Regions from separate parts of the Homo sapiens genome. Here region 1 is linked to region 2. Evidence: fine-mapped expression QTL. Tissue or cell type: whole blood. Region 2 holds a variant in brackets; the other region holds the start of a gene. All regions are shown on one strand. Distances are from middle to middle.

The links. PIP is the estimated chance that this variant, and not a neighbour inherited with it, causes the effect.
Region 1: it holds the start of PHGDH, and the variant in region 2 is the best candidate, but not a certain one, in a credible set for the expression of PHGDH in whole blood (TOPMed, PIP 0.53).

The regions. Positions count from the first base shown.
Region 1 is chr1:119,708,939-119,714,086 of GRCh38, forward strand. It overlaps PHGDH (phosphoglycerate dehydrogenase), which reads left to right and starts at 2,996. Exons shown (of 12, transcript NM_006623.4): 1 at 2,996-3,222. The coding sequence starts at 3,085. It overlaps LOC105378937 (a long non-coding RNA gene), which reads right to left and starts at 2,908. Exons shown (of 3, transcript XR_947757.4): 1 at 2,796-2,908. RefSeq lists enhancers at 2,788-3,317, 2,799-2,848, 2,989-3,268, 3,319-3,408 and a silencer at 3,549-3,648.
Region 2 is chr1:120,418,601-120,423,748 of GRCh38, forward strand. NBPF8 (NBPF member 8) reads left to right here. Exons shown (of 23, transcript NM_001037501.5): 2 at 1,250-1,518. Among named protein-coding and RNA genes, the nearest start is that of NBPF8, 6.1 kb to the left of the region's middle. The variant C/T (reference allele first, on the strand shown) is at 3,029.

The DNA of each region.
Region 1 (5,148 bases), 710 kb before region 2:
TTAGTTTGCAATTGATGTTGGAGATTCTGGGGTGTAGTGGTGAGGGATATATCTGTATTGGCAGTATCAGGTCTCAGCCCGACCAGCAACACATTTGATGATATCGCTTCTAAAAATCACTCGGTACCTCTGTACTAACTTTGGAGTCAAGTTTAAACTCCTCCTCAGGGCAAGACACTTCATGAGCAGCCCCTGGCCCCTCTGCAGTCTCACCTCCTGGTATCCCACTGGCATCCCCCACAGCCATGGTAGAGAAGCCATGAACATGTTGCAACTCCTCACAACTCTAAGCCTTTGGAAATGTCATTTCTTCTCCCCCGGCTAATTCATATTCAGCTCTCAAGATTAGGCAGTTAACCATGAGCAGCTTCAAGGCAGGTTATGTTTTACCTATCTCTGTATCCTTGAGCCTCTCAAAGTAGCTGCCTTGAATGAGTTTCAAAAGGTTAGCTGAAAGGCAACCTTGCTTGGAAATCCTCCTGGCACCTCAGGAGATGGTTCTCCTCCTTGCTCCCAAAGCCCTCCAGCACACCTTTATTTATAATTCTTAAACTATACCTTTTTAATTTTTTTTATTATTTTTTAGAGACAGGTCTCACTCTGTTGCCCAGGTTGGAGTGCAGTGGCACAATCATGGTTCACTGCAGCCTCGAACTCCTGGGCTCAAGCAATCCTCCTGCCTCAGCCTCCCAAGTAGATAGGACTACAGCAATGTGCCACCATGCCGGGGTACTCTTCTTAAAATGTTGTTCTTTTTTCTTTTTGAGGAAAGAAGGCTGTGTCTTATGTGTCACAGGGCCTAGCCCATAGGAGGTACTGGATAAATTAATTTTTGAATCAAACCTCTTCTGAGCCTCTGTGATGTGGAAGGCATGGTGCTAGGCACTACTGGGGGTATACAAAATCGTGTCTCTGATTTAAGGAAATGAGAGTTCATGGGGAACAAGACATGAAAAGTTCATAAATATATTGCTTAAGGCACTGTGAGATAACTTGAAGTTAATTCTATAGAAATTTAAAAGGAGGGAACATTTCTGACTTATGTAACAATTATCACACACCCTCCTTTTCACTTGGAAATGGACTCTTAATCTGTTAATTATTTTCTTAACGGTTTAGAAGTGTCTTTTATTGTGTGGCTTGGATCTGTTTAAAAAGTAGGTGGGTCATAAATAATAAATAAAGAAAACAGGTGATCAGGCTTAGGAGGCCCTCTGGGTTGTGCGTTCAGACAGTATCCAAGAAGTTTGACTTGGTGTGAAAGGGTGGGATTACATGTTAATGATAGCAGGGTTTAGATTCTACACTGAAAGGAAGCAGTTAGTGAGCCCTGGGAGGAGTTGAAGGAAAGCAGTTACAAAAATGGATGCTTCCCAAGACCCTCCATTAAGCCTCCTGGGATAGGTCCCCTGTCTGTCCCTAGACTCCAGGGTACTGCTGGGCACTTCAAGAGAGACAGAGAATTTGAATACTCATGAGTCTTGGAATGTAGGAATAACAATTCATCCGAACAAGCAAACATGATAGACAATTTTTTTTTTTACCCACTGAGGACATTGTGTCTAAAAATCTGATTTGTGCCCAGGAATTATCTGTATAGAATTTTCATTACTTTATAGAATTGATATTGCATAGTTCTGTAGGATAAGGATCTAGCACTTGAGTTATGAATAGCTCAGGATGACATAACACACAATGGTTAGTTGGACTGGATATGTCCATAAAGCTGAATTCTAATTCAACTATGAGCATCTCTGATTCTGCTTCTGATTCTAGGTGACTTTAATCCCAAATTGAATTTTCTGACATTTCTGTAAAATGGGGCATGAGAGAGCACGTCGGTTATGGGGTTTAAATATAAAAGAGTTAAGAGCTGAGAAGTGCCTCCTTGGTCAATTAAACCACACTGACATCCCGTTTTCCTTTTCTTCTTTTTCATAATTAGAGAGGAAGTGGAGGGAAAGGAAATAAATAACTTTAACAAAGTATGCCTAGTTTAAATGCACCAGGTCCCCGCTCTTTTATAAACTCATAATTCTCATTGCATCACTAATTTGAAATTAATCACAGCTCCTTGGTGTCTCAGAAAGCTTCCTATTGCTTTTCACTACGTAACTTTCCAAGTCTGTGTGTTTGGTACTCTAGGATGTTAGGCCACCAGAGGAAAGAGGATGTATCTTTTTTTTTTTTATACTTTAAGTTTTAGGGTACATGTGCACAATGCGCAGGTTAGTTACATATGTATACATGTGCCATGCTGGTGTGCTGCACCCATTAACTCGTCATTTAGCATTAGGTATATCTCCTAATGCTATCCCTCCCCCCCTCCCCCCACCCCACAACAGTCCCCAGAGTGTGATGTTCCCCTTCCTGTGTCCATGTGTTCTCATTGTTCAATTCCCACCTATGAGTGAGAATATGCGGTGTTTGGTTTTTTGTTCTTGCGATAGTTTACTGAGAATGATGATTTCCAATTTCATCCATGTCCCTACAAAGGACATGAACTCATCATTTTTTATGGCTGCATAGTATTCCATGGTGTATATGTGCCATATTTTCTTAATCCAGTCTATCATTGTTGGACATTTTCTTTTTGATAGTCGAATTCCCTTCAACGTCTAGCACAGTGCCTTGCACATTTACCCACTCAAAAAAAATTTCGTAAGGAATTAATAAATGAATCCTTAGGAGGAAAAGTGAAAATGAAGTTTTTCTCTCAGGATGAGGTGTATTTCTCCGTTCATTTCAGATATGCATCAGCTAGTCAGCGTAAATTGTGCTTTTTATATGCTCACCAGGTGTAGGTAAGAGCTTTGGCTGAGATGGAGAAATTCATCGCGGGAGGATAATAAAGCGGGCAGGGATTTGGCAACCTCAGAGCCGCGAGGAGGAGGCGGAGTCGCGGAGAGTTTGAGTATTTCCGTCCAATCAAAAGGAGACTGTAAGAGGAGGAGGAGGAGGAGATGACTGGGGAGCGGGAGCTGGAGAATACTGCCCAGTTACTCTAGCGCGCCAGGCCGAACCGCAGCTTCTTGGCTTAGGTACTTCTACTCACAGCGGCCGATTCCGAGGCCAACTCCAGCAATGGCTTTTGCAAATCTGCGGAAAGTGCTCATCAGTGACAGCCTGGACCCTTGCTGCCGGAAGATCTTGCAAGATGGAGGGCTGCAGGTGGTGGAAAAGCAGAACCTTAGCAAAGAGGAGCTGATAGCGGAGCTGCAGGTAAGGCGAGAGAGAGAAAATTGAGGTCTCTAGGGCAACCTCCATGGAAAAAGGCTGGCTGCGCCCAGGCCAGCGCGCCCCCCTCGCATGCACCCCGTATCAATTAGTTCCGGGGCCTCCTGAGATTGGGGGGTAGAGAAGAACGGGGGCGGGAGGAGGCAGAAAGAGGGAAGAACAAACGGCGGCGAGATGCAAACTTTTCTTTTAGTTTGCAACCGCGTCTTTCACGTTGGCATGCCTCCGCTAGCATTGCAAAGTGCGGGCTGCTCCAACTGGTCCTGCAGGCTGCTCGCGGATGCCAGCGCGGGATGCCAGCGCGGCGCCCCAGCGCCTTAGCGCGCAATTGTTCTGGCAGCCTCGCGCCGCCTCTCCCCCAACCCCCAACCGCCTCCGCGCGGGGCGATCGGGAGAGGGGCCCCAAAGTGGCTTCTTTGCGGGGAACCCAGGGACTGGCGATTCTTCCCAACCAAGTTCTGGGCCGCCCCGCCGATTCTAGCCTGCCTTGGCGGTGGCGGGGTTGGGGGGGTCGGGGGGCGGGGGGAAGCTGGCGGAGACCCAACCAGTCTGGTGGCTGCTGGGGCAGCTGGAGGGGAAGGCAGCCCTCGTAAGGCAGCAAACACGTACCCGCCCCTCGTCTGATGCAAGACTGCTCCGTGCTTTCGCCGCCCCTCTGCCTCCTGGGAGCCTTCGGAGGAAAGGGAGGCGGGCGGGGAGCGCTGGGGTCCAGATTTAGCCTCCTCCCCACCTTTGGTTTATCGCTGGTTGGGAGTGACCAGACTCGACTAGAATCCGATCCCAAACGCTCCCAGATGATTTATAGTCTTAGCAAATTTTTATCTCCTTTTGTTGTGATATATAATTAATCTACTTCAAATCTTTATCCACCGTGTTTGAAAAGGCCTGCTGGGCCTGGTGGCCTTGTCCGGAATATTTATTTTGTGAACTCTTCACTCCAGTGCCTGCACTTTCGACCTCTGTAGTCGACCCAGCTGCCCAGTCTCTACCTCACCTGATCCAGTATATTCTCCCCCACCCTCCAAATCGCACAACCGCCTTCTGCCCGCCTCAGCCCTGTCCACCACCTTCAGCCGTCTCCTCCTCCGAGGACCCCTTAGACCGCAGAGGCTGCTGTTGTTGCTTTAGTTGTGCCACAACCACGTGGTCCTGGAAACTGCCTCGCTCACTTTGTCTGCCTTTGTATCTGCTGGCGTGGATCTTGTCACCATGGCATGACACTATATCCAAGTATCCAGCTCTGCCCTGTACTCAGAAGAATTTGGTCCCTGCCTTCAAGAAGTTTGTAAGCTGGTTAGGGAGCATGGCTAATACGCAGGAGACAGTTGAGCAGATGACACAAGAGCATAGCCCCGAATTAGACCATCCAGCTCCCTAACCTTTGCGTGTTCCCCTTCTGGAAAAGCCAGAGAAAGGTCCAATCATCATGCACAGAATTGGTGGGCAAGGGCTTAGGACTTGAGTAGGATTGGACGGGTGGCAGGCTCCTCACATCTGTCACCTCCTTTCTTGTGTGAAATTGTATCAGTGGCTCTGGGGAACAACCAGGAAAGGCAGTGGGGTGTCCTGCAGAACAGCCTCTGACTCTCACCTCCACCAGAGCACCAGGTTGGGAAGAGGGTGGCAATCAAGTGCTTTCACCTCTCTAAAGGAAATTAGAAACCTGATACCCCAGTGAGGGGGTGGGGATAGGGAGGGATGAGGGCAGAATTGAGAGGAATGGGAGGCCTCATCCATAATGAGGGGTTGTTCCATGAAGTCAGGAATCAGCTGGGTGGATGCTGGGAGTCTGGTGCTGAAACTTGGAGAACATTTTAAAGGCGCTGAAAACTCTTGGCAGGAGAGGAGGAGTGTTTGTTGGCTAACTTGACTGCTGGGCATTTTTGGACTGTTTGGGAGGGCTCAGCTTTC
Region 2 (5,148 bases):
AGTGGAGTGGTATGATCATGGGTCTCTGCAGCCTTGACCTCTCAGGCTCAAGCAGTCTGCCCACCTCAGCTTCCTTAGTAGCTGGTTCTACAGGCATGCACCACTATGCCCGGCTAATTTTCTATTTTTTGTAGATAGGGTTTTCCTGTAGTGCCCAGACTGGTTTCAAACTCCTGGGCTCAAATGACCCTCCCACCTTGGCATCTCAAAGTGTTGGGATTACAGGCATAAGCCATCACCGCTGGCCATTTTAGTTTTAATAATTTTTATGTTTTTCTAATTTAAAAGATTTACTAAAATCTCTTACAGCTATTATTTATGAATATAGTATTCATTGTTGTTATTATGATTATTTTGTATGTGTTCAATCTCATTTTCAACATAAGCTCCTGGAAATTTGAGATTTTGTCTCTTATTCACCACTGTATTCTCAGTACTTGACCTTGCCTGGCATGAAACAGATATTGAATAAATATTTGTTAAATGAATGAATGAATGAACATACTAATACCATATTCAACAATCTCCAAGTGTCACAGTTTTCACCATCTAACAAATAAAATAGCTTGTATACAGCAGAGTCACAGTCAACCTGACATAAAAGGAAATGTCAATGAAAAGTAAACCTTTGTATGTGTTGCTGCTAAGATTTTGGGGCTTTTGTTACTGTAGCATAACCTAGCGAAAGCTCAGCGAGACAGCCTGTAGAATATACGTGTACAGATAGACCAGATAGACCAGTAGATGAGATTCCAAAGAAGCATTAACTACACCCACACACTCTTAATTCCCTAACAGAAAGAATCGAATTCTTGTTCACTAAGATCTGCCTCAAGTATTACTTGGTGAAAACTTCCCTGGCTACTCAAGTATTTAGTCAGGACTCTTTATTTTTTTTTCCCCCAGGCTGGAGTTCAGTGGTGCCATCATAGCTCACTAACCTCTAATTCGAGGCTCAAGGAATCCTCCTGCCTCAACCTTCAGAGTAGCTGAGACTACAAGTGTGTGCCACCATGCTGGGCCAATTTTTCATTTTTTATTTTCAGAGATGGGGTCTTACTATGTTGCCGAGGCTGGTGAGGACTGTTGATTACATATGACAGGAACCCAAACAATTCTAGTTCCCCACCACCTTTCAACCTGCTCCTCCCTGGGTCTTCCCAGTCTCCGTAAACGGCAGCTCCATCCTTCAAGTTGCCGAAGCCCCAAATCTCAATATTAACCATGATTTCTCTCTTTTATCTCATAGGCAATCTGAAAGCAAATCCTGTTTAGATGCAGGCGAAGGTTCCTGGTGACCCAGGCTCTCACCTTACCGTCCCTTACCGTCCTCCTGAGGGTGTCCTGGAGCTTCAGTGCTGTGTGTTCTTGGCCTCCACGCTGGGGGTGCCACCAACTCCCACTGTCCAGGGCTTCCAGTGGACTCTCCGAGGTACTGATGTAGAAACTTCCCCATTCGGTGCACCAAGAGCAACCTCACACGGTGTGGGCCGAATGAAGAGCTGCCAGATCCCACAGGTAAAAACCCTGAGGCATTGCCAGCTCGATGGAGTCAGAGAGTCCTTTTTCTATTATGACTCAGATGTGAAGGGAAGATGCCAAGGGCCCTAAACATCGCAGGGCCTTGCCTGGCATGAAACAGATACTGAATTAATATTTGTTAAGTGAATGAACAAATATTCACAGCGTGTGCCACCCTCGACCTGCAGTGCTGTTGTCAGGTGGAAGTGATTTTACTTCAGGAGAGGACAGTGTTCTCTCCAGGACTTTTCCTTAGTAGCTAGATCTACATCCCACTCCTTGCTCTTCCCCTCTTACCCCCCATTCTCTGCCCCCATTTCCGTCTCTTGTTTCCACCCTGCCGTCCCCTTTCACCTGCTTTCTTCTCTTCAGCTTTCATGGCTCACCCCCTCCCTGTCCACCCGCATCCCCCAGGCTAAGGCCCTGCACTGTCCTGGGTGGGGAGATGTGTGTGGTTTTAGGCAGTGCCCTCTAGATGTGTCCAGGATGGGGAAACATGGCTCAGTTGCCAGTATAATGGGTTAAAAGAGAGGCCACTTTTGAAGGCCGTTCCCATCTCCCATTCCAGAATCCTGTAGGACTTAGAATTTATGGGCCACAGTGGAATTCTTGGTTCCCCAGGACCTTGTGGTGGATGTCTTCTTTCACTGAGCATTCATGGGGTGACTATTAGGCACCATGCCCTGCTCTGGGCTAGAGACCCCATAACGAGTAAATCTCAGGTCACTACCCCATGGAACCCACCACTGCAGGCATTGAGAGGGGGAGAAAGAAAGGGGCATGGCCTGTTTGTATCCTTCTCACGTGGCCGTCCACCAGGTCCTGGGGGAGTGGGAGCCAGTGCAAGGAGGGAAGTCCAGTGAGAATGACAAATGGACGATGTCAGACCCAGGGGCTGAGGTCCCCACCTGCAGCTGGGCAGCTTCTGGAGTGGACAAGGAGCAGCAGGGAAGGTTGCGGCCTGGTGTTCTGGGATCCACTGTCTCATCTCATTCTTTTGGGCACCAGAACTTATCCAAAGACAAGACTCAGTGTCTCTGGCAACAGTGGGCCAGAGGAATAATGTGTTTCAGAGAAGGAAGAAGGGGTTGTACCCCATGGAAACAGTATATAGTTTTACAGTAGTGCGTCTGTCTCCAATAACTAGTTAGCGTGTTCCTGTTAATGGAAAATACTGGTGGTGTAAGTTCCCCTGGATGTTCTCATCTTCATGTAAGTTTGTTCATTTCCTTCCTTCCTTCCTTCCCTACTTCTCTCCCCTCCCTACTTCTCTCCCACTCTTTTTCTCTCTCTCTTTATTCTTTCCCTCCCTCCTTCCCTTCTGCCTTCCCTCCCTTCCTTTCTTCCTCCCTTCCTCCCTCTCTCCCTGCCTTCCTCCCTCCCTCCCTTCCTTCCTTCCTTCCTCCCTTCCTCCTTCCTTCCCTCCCTCCATTCTTTCCTTTCTTCCTTTCTTCTTTTCTTTTTCTTTGTCTCTCATGCTCTCTCTTTTTCTTTCCTTTTTGTTCTA[C/T]TTTTTTAAATAGACCACACTGCACTGAAATCTACATTACTTACCAAAACCTCTGGAGCTGCTTCTGTCTTGTAGGCAGGGAGCTCGTCCTGTAGCCCTTAGGTCCTCCCAGCCTCCTCCTCCTCTGATTTGTGGGTGCCACTGGGGCAGCTGCTGAGTCTCAGTGGTTCCTAGTCATCACCAAGTTCTGCCCACCTAGATGGTTTGCACCTGTCCTTACCAGAACCCTGCACTGTCTAGATGACTGAGGCTGCTTCTGCCTAACTGATCTGCTATCTGTGTTCTGGGGGCACCCCAGGGTTAGAGGTAAATGGCACAGGCATTGAAATCTCCAACTGCTCTGACTCCAGGTTGGTGCACTTCAATGCCAAGTACTAACCACACAATAACAGGATGCCACCAAAACCTTGGTATGGGGCTGCTGCATCCTAATTAAAAAAAAGTAATAGATGTTATTTTTTAGAAAAGTTCTAGGTTTACAGAAAAATGGAGTGGATAGTACAGAGAGTTCTCCTAGGCTCCCCTGTCCTCCAGCACACAGTTTCCCCTATTAGTATGTTGTATTAGTGTGGTCCATTCATTACAATTGATGAACCACTATTGATACATCATTATCAACTAAAGTCCATAGTTTACACTAGAGTTCATTCTTTGAGTTTCACAGATTATGGGTTTTGGCAATTATGTAATGTCCTAAATCCCCAATACAGCATCATGCAAAATAGTTTCACTGCTGAAAATTCCCTGTACTTCACCATTTCGTGCCTCCTCCTCTCCTCCACCCCTGACAACCACTCATCATTTTACTACTTCTATCTTTTTGACTTTCCAAGAATGTCCTAGAGTTGGAATTACAGTATGTAGGTTTCCAGACTGGCTTCTTTCTAGCATTGTGTACTTTTAAGTTCCTCCACGTCTTTTCATGACTTGACAGCTTGTTTTGTAAAATCACTGAATCAGATTTCATTGTATGGCTACAACACAGTTTGTTTATTCATTCACTTGGTGAAAGATGTCTTGGGTACTTCCAAGTTTTGACAATTATGATAAAATTGCTGCAAGTACTTATGTGCAGGATTTTGAATGAACTTAAGTTTTCCAAAGTGACTGTACACTTTTGATTTCCACTAGCTATGGAGAGTTCTGGTTGTTCCTCATCTTCGACAGCATTTGGTGTGTTCACCGTTTTGTGTTTTAGCCATTCTGATAGGTTTACAGTGATATCTCGTTTTAATGTGCAATTCCCTCACAACAAATGATTTTGAGCATCTTTCTCATATGCTTATTTGCCATCTGTATATCTTATTAATGAGGTGTTCAGATCTTTCACCTTTTTTTTTTTTTTTTTTGCTTTGTGTTGTTTAGTTCTCAGAATTCTTCATATATTTTGGACAGCAGTTTTTCCATCAGATTATTTTGTAAATATTTTCTCCCAGTCTGTGACTTGCTTTTTCCATTCTCTTAACAGTGTCTTTCACACAACAGAAGTTTTTAATTTTAATGAGGCTCAACTTAATTTTTTTTCATTAGTAGATTGTGCTTTTGGTTTTGTATCTAAGAAGCCATCATTGAACCCAGGATCCCTCAGATTTTCTCCTATTTTATCTCTTAGGATTCTTATGGTTTTGCACCTTACATTTACGTGTAAGATTTATTTTATAAAGGGTATATAACATGCATACCTGGATTTATTTATTTTTTTGCATGTGGTTGTCCAGCTGTTCTAGCACCACTAGTTGGAAAGGCTATCTTTGCTGCTTTAAATTGTCTCTAAACCTCCATGGAAGATCAGTGGACTGTATGTAGGCCTGCTTCTGGGCTCCGTATTCTTTTCTATGCATCTATATGTGTGTGTTTTCTCTTTTCACCAACTTCACACTATTTGGGTTACTGTAGCTTAATGTAAGTCCTGAAGTTGGTAGTGCCAAACCTCAGGGAGTTTTTCTGAACTTCATCATGAGAACCTGGTTGAGATCATTGTAGTAACACTTGGAAATGTGTGAGATTCCCCCTTAGTCTGGTCTTCAAGGAGTTTTTAATGTTCTAGCCAGGCTACCCTCAGCTTCTAGTAATCTGTCAATACCATTTAAGTGCTCCTCCCACTTGCTGTCCCCAGTAGC